Linked DNA regions of Homo sapiens: region 2 is linked to region 1. Evidence: fine-mapped expression QTL. Tissue or cell type: whole blood. Region 1 holds a variant in brackets; the other region holds the start of a gene. All regions are shown on one strand. Distances are from middle to middle.

Region 1 (2,835 bases):
TTCCTAAATGCAGAGTTATATTAAAATACTTGCATATTTATTTATTTCAAGGTATTTTGTTCTTAGTTTGGCAGAAAAATCTGCCAACAGTACTTGGTGGCCGATTTAACGAACATGTAGAACTGCACTTTGTAATTGTCCACAGCGTGCTCACATTTCAAAACCTGAAACAAATTTCAGTTAGAGGTTTTTGTCAGGACCCCACTCTGCAAGCTCCATGCATTGCTGAATTTACGAGTGGCTCCCCCTGCAGCAGGGTGAGGGCTGAGAGCAGACGTAGGTGTTGACGTGAGAGCCGGAGCCCAGGGTGGCTGCACAGGCAGGGACAGGAGGAGTGTAGCTGCAGTTTCTGAGTTCTGTGTGCACGTGTGTGCCCACAGGGATATTGAGGTGCCACGTGCAGCTTCTGTGTGTGTGTGTGCACGTGTGTGTGGTGAGAGATGAGGTGCAGGGCGCAGTTCTCGTGTATGTACGTGTGTGTGCACGCACGCAGGTGTCTAGGTACTGTATGTGTGCCCACATGTGGAGACTCATATGCAGGATGCAGTTCTTATCCGATTCTTTTCCCGGCAAGGCCTGCTCAGTGCAGACATGGGAAGAGGCTGGAATCTGCAGCTTCAGGGGCTGCCCCAGCAGGACTTGTGGATGTAGACCCACCTCTCTCGGGCTTTAGGGTTAGGCATAATGGCTCATTATTAATGCTCAGCCAACTGTAAAGCTGCTCCAGGTCCTGCCCATCTCTGCCTGCTGGAGGAGGTGCCAGCCCTGCTGAGGCGGCCACATGTACCCATCAGTCACAGCCCCTGGGGCTCACTGGACAGGGCCTACTTGATGTTTGCTGTCAGGGACCCTGGACCCCAGAGACCCCATGCTTGGCCCTTCTGGGATCCACTGCTCTCCTCTGCTCTGGGCCCCATCCTGGGCACCCAGGCCCTGGCTCCACCCTGTCCTGCCATTGTAAGTTGCACGACGTTGCCCCTGAGGCCTCCAGCAAGCCTGGACAGCCCTGGCCTTCCTAGGAGGAAGAAGGGGCTGCTAGGCCTGAAGGTTCACCTGGGAGAGTCTTGGGTGCTCCCTTACCCATCTGCTCATGCAGCGAGACCTTCTTACCCTCAGGTGCTGCTCAGATGCCTCTTCTTCCGGGAAGCTGGCCTAGACTCAGGGCGCTGCTGAGGGCTCACTCTGGTATCCCACCTGCCCATCCCCGCCCTGGGTCTGGCCTCACCCTGAACTGTGAGTCCCTGGAGGACGGGGGTTGCCCTGGGCTGGGGCTTGGTAGGCATGTGTCAGTGAGGAGGGGAACTGAGCCAAGGCTTTCTCTGCACTTGCCCTGGTGTGGCCAGGAGCTCTGGCTGGACCTCGGTGGGGCTCATCAGAGAGCAGCTAGCATCACCACCTGGCCCACTAGCTCCCAATGCAGTGATCCGGGTGGGG[C/T]TGGGGCACCAGCTTGGGTCCAGGTGTGCCAGGTTTGTATACCTGGGCTTCAGGGATATAGGAATTAGAGTGTGGTGGAGTGGAGCAGCACCTTTCTGGCACAGTAACCACATAGGCTCAGGGAATTAGAAGAGAGGAGGCCTCGAAACAGAGACTACCAGCTTGACCCCAGACTCTGGAGCACCCAGCCATCCCCTGCCACCAGGTCCTGCGTCTCCAGTGGGCTTCCCTTGTGGATTGGGTTGGTTATGGGAATCGGAAAACCATTTCAGGGGAGTAAGACATTTGCTGGGTGAAGCTTTTCACCAGGACCTGGGAATCTCTCTAAATCTACTCAGGTGATAAAGTCAGTGCATTAGGAACCAGGGATGATGTGGCTTTTGGTGATTGCTGAACTCTTCAAAGAACGTAGAACAGAAACCCAGAGAGGCAAGGCACACTCCCTTCCTTCCCCCTTGCCGTCCTTCCTTCCTGGCACCCTGTTGTACCAACTTCGGGCCAACGGAACTTTTAGCCTTAGAAGCGTCTTCAGCATCTCCAGCGGAGAGGGTCAAGAATCCAAAATACACAGAAGCCTGAGTGGAAAGCAGGGCTGGTGTAGACAGACTGGGTGCAGATGGCTGGTGTAGACAGACGGTGCAGATGGCTGGTGTAGACAGACTGGGTGCAGATGGCTGGTGTAGACAGACTGGGTGCAGATGGCTGGGTGTAGACAGACTGGGTGCAGATGGCTGGTGTAGACAGACTGGGTGCAGATGGCTGGTGTAGACAGACTGGGTGCAGATGGCTGGGTGTAGACAGACTGGGTGCAGATGGCTGGTGTAGACTGAGTGCAGATGGCTGGTGTAGACAGACTGGGTGCAGATGGCTGGGTGTAGACAGACTGGGTGCAGATGGCTGGTGTAGACAGACTGGGTGCAGATGGCTGGTGTAGACAGACCGACCTGCACACCAAGCCCTGTTTGGGACGAGGCTTCCTAGACAGGTTTTGATTCAATGGTGGTTTCTGACTGCACAGACAGGAAACCAGAGATGGGCACGGGTACCTGGGCCAGACGCCAGGAGCCATCACTGGGTCCTGATGGGCCTGAATGGCTGTGACCAGGTGGCAGCCCAGAGCGAGCCTCCTGGGGGTGTGGGTTTCACACCTGGCTTTCTCATTCACCACCCTGCTGTGCTAAGAAAGTGGCCATTGATGGGAACTGGGGCAGAGCAGGGACAGTGTGGGTCCCCCGCTGTCCCCAGGGCCCTGCTTGAAGGAGCCACGGGTGTCTGCTGCCCACGGATGTCTTGCTTTTTGCAGGGAAATCAGGAGGTCAGAGTTTGAGACCAGCCTGGCCAACATGGTGAAACCCCATCTCTACTGAAAATAGCAAAATTAGCCAGGCGCGGTTAGTGGTG
Region 2 (2,667 bases), 210 kb after region 1:
CCCAACACTTTGGCAAGCCGAGGTGGGTGGATCACCTGAGGTCAGGAGTTCGAGACCAGCCTGGCCAAGATGGCAAAACCACTATCTACTTAAAAAAAAAAAAAAATTAGCCAGGTGTGGTGGCGCGCGACTGTAATCCCAGCTACTTGGGAGGCTGAGGCACGAGAATCGCTTGAGCCCTGGAGGCAGAGGCTGCAGTGAACTGAGATCGCACCACTGCTCTCAGGCCTGGGTGACAAAGCAAGACTCTGTCCCAAAAAAGCCCATTTACTCAGCTCACATTTTTGAGCCTCTGCTATTCGACAGGAACCAGAGGTGAGCAGAGCCGACTTGGTGACCCCTGGGGACAGAGCGGCAGAACTCAGCAATTCTGGGCTGCCCTGCAGGAGCTACACCCGGGGAGGGGCGGTGGCCACTTGGGGGCAGGGTGGGCTTCTCAGCTGCGCCCACCCCACCTTGGGAGCTGTGTCTGGAAAAGAGACTTTTCCTGAGCCGACAGCAGACAGCGAGTGCAAAGGCCCCAAGGCCCGCACGCCTTATTCAGAGAACAGCAGGAGGCGCGGGGCGGGTTGGGGGCGTCAGGGAGACGGGGTTTGACTGAGAACCTGGGGGCGCCAGTGACAGCCTCGGCCGCGTTGCTGAAAACCGACCTTGCGGGATGAAGAGGGCGCGGTTCCCCCGGCTGGGATGAGGACCGCGGATGCTGAGGAGCGGACTCCAGGGACCACCGACTCCATGGCCGGCCCCAGCGAGGGCGAGAACGGGTGGAAGCCGGCCAGGGTCTGTGGAGACGTCAGGGTGCGAGGCCAGGCTGAGGTGTCCCCAGGGATCCCCTGAGGGTACAGGGAATTCAGCCAGGGCCTGCGCGCCCGGACGGAGGACTAGAGGGGGCCAAGGACCACCGGGAGGGGGAAGGAGAAGGCGCAGCCCGAGGTCGGAGGGGCCGGCGGGCGCGCAGAGGGCGCGGGGTGAGCCCTAAGGACCTGCAGGCAGGACCCTGCTCTCGGCCGCGCGGTCCCGGGTGCCGACCGGCGGGGTGGGCGGGGCAGGGGCACCCAGGGCCGCACACCTGCCGCGTGGGACCCTGAAATGCCCAGGACGAAGAACGTCGCACGGACGACCCTGCCGTGCCTGGCGCGCGTCCGCTTCCTGGGAAGCTCAGGATCCAAAAGCATCTTAATATTCTCTATAATTCGCCAAAAACCATGACTCCTTTTACATTTTCGAAACGACCTCATGGGGCAGGCGAGGGGGCACACGCTCTCCTCACTTTACCTGTTCGGGTCTACACCGCCCGGCTCTAGGGCCGGCAGCTCAGCACAGCCGGCCGCGAGCGCTGGGGAGGGGACGGGGGCGCAGGGAGAACCGGGGGACCCTGGGCGCACACAGACCCCAGGGGGAACGCAGGGCCTGGAGGGGCTCAGCGCGCGACCCCCGCCTCGGGGCACGGAGACTCCGGGGGATCACTGGGACGCGAAGGGCGCAGGGCGGACCCCAGGGGAACCGGATGGCGTCTCCGGTTCGCCAGGGCAGCTGGGGCAGCCGGACCCGAGACAGCCGGACCCGCGGGCGCCCTCTGCCGCCTCCCGGCCCTGGATGCTGCGGGGCGGGGCGGGCGGCTCGCGTGCCGGGGTGGGGCAGTCCCTGGAGCCGCCGCGGGTTCCCGGGATGCGAGCGCCGGCACCCGCCGCCACAGCTCCTGGCCAGGGCGCGCTGCCCCGCGGGTGTGCCTGAGCCTCCGCGCCCCGCAGGCCCTGGGTAAGTGTCCTGGGCGCCCCCGCAGGCCCCCGCCGCGTGCCGCCCGCGGTGGAGACGGGATGCGCTCCCGGGTGTGGGGCTGAGGGACGGGCGCCGGCGTCGGGACCCTCCTCACGCCGCATCCTCGCGTCGCCAGGCCCGGCGGCCCCGGGACGGGGCGGACACTCTGGGGTGCGGCTGGCTGGTCTCACTTAAAACTCGGACCTCGGAGGGAAGCCGCGGCGCGTCCACGGTTCGTGGTCCTCAGCGTCCCCTCGAGAGTGTTCTGAGCCTTCACTCCCCGGGCGTTCCGTGCGGGCCGCGCTCCCTGGGGCTGGGCGGGTGCGGGCGGCGGAGCGGGGCCCCGCTGTCGGGCCGAGGGCGCCAGGTCCGGGGGGCCTCACCCCCGGGAAAGGCCCATGTTCAGGCTTGGTTTCAGTAGCACCCAGTAGCGCTGAAGTCTTATTTTGAGCGGCCAGAATTCCCAGACCGGATGCCCTGAGAGAGCGATGTGGCGCCTGGAGTCCACGCTGGGACCCCTTCTGGGGAGGGGTCGCCATGGGCGCGTGACAGGCAGGGGCCACCCTCTGACCTCTTCTGCGAGGCCGGAGGTCAGAGACCTTGTGCAGAAGCGTCCCACGGGCCTGTCCCACGGGCCTGTCCGGCTGTGGCCTCCGGGATGGCAAGGGCAGGCGGGGAGGGGCTTCCTCCCTGGGCCTCCTGTGCGCGCGCACAGGCTCTCGTCTGCGGGGTTCTTGCAGAAGGGTGGGCGTGTGCGCGCGTTCTCCAAACGCCACCCCCACGGGGCCTCACAGCCGCCCCGGCCTGGCAACCGTCACCCATTTTACGAACGAGGACATCAAGGTAGGTCGCTCATCCAGCCTCTCAGAGCAAGTGACTGGCGGCGTTTGGACTCGGGCCGAGTGTGCC

What was found. PIP is the estimated chance that this variant, and not a neighbour inherited with it, causes the effect.
Region 2: AHRR starts here. The variant in region 1 is fine-mapped to the expression of AHRR in whole blood (TOPMed, PIP above 0.99).

What each region holds. Positions count from the first base shown.
Region 1 is chr5:106,429-109,263 of GRCh38, forward strand. All of the region lies in intron 1 of PLEKHG4B (pleckstrin homology and RhoGEF domain containing G4B), which reads left to right. Among named protein-coding and RNA genes, the nearest start is that of PLEKHG4B, 16 kb to the left of the region's middle. The variant C/T (reference allele first, on the strand shown) is at 1,435.
Region 2 is chr5:320,062-322,728 of GRCh38, forward strand. AHRR (aryl hydrocarbon receptor repressor) reads left to right here and starts at 1,653. Exons shown (of 11, transcript NM_001377236.1): 1 at 1,653-1,758. The region is part of intron 3 of PDCD6-AHRR (PDCD6-AHRR readthrough (NMD candidate)); the gene reads left to right. RefSeq lists silencers at 865-1,124, 1,275-1,764, 1,855-2,234, 2,245-2,304 and enhancers at 1,889-2,456, 2,545-2,664.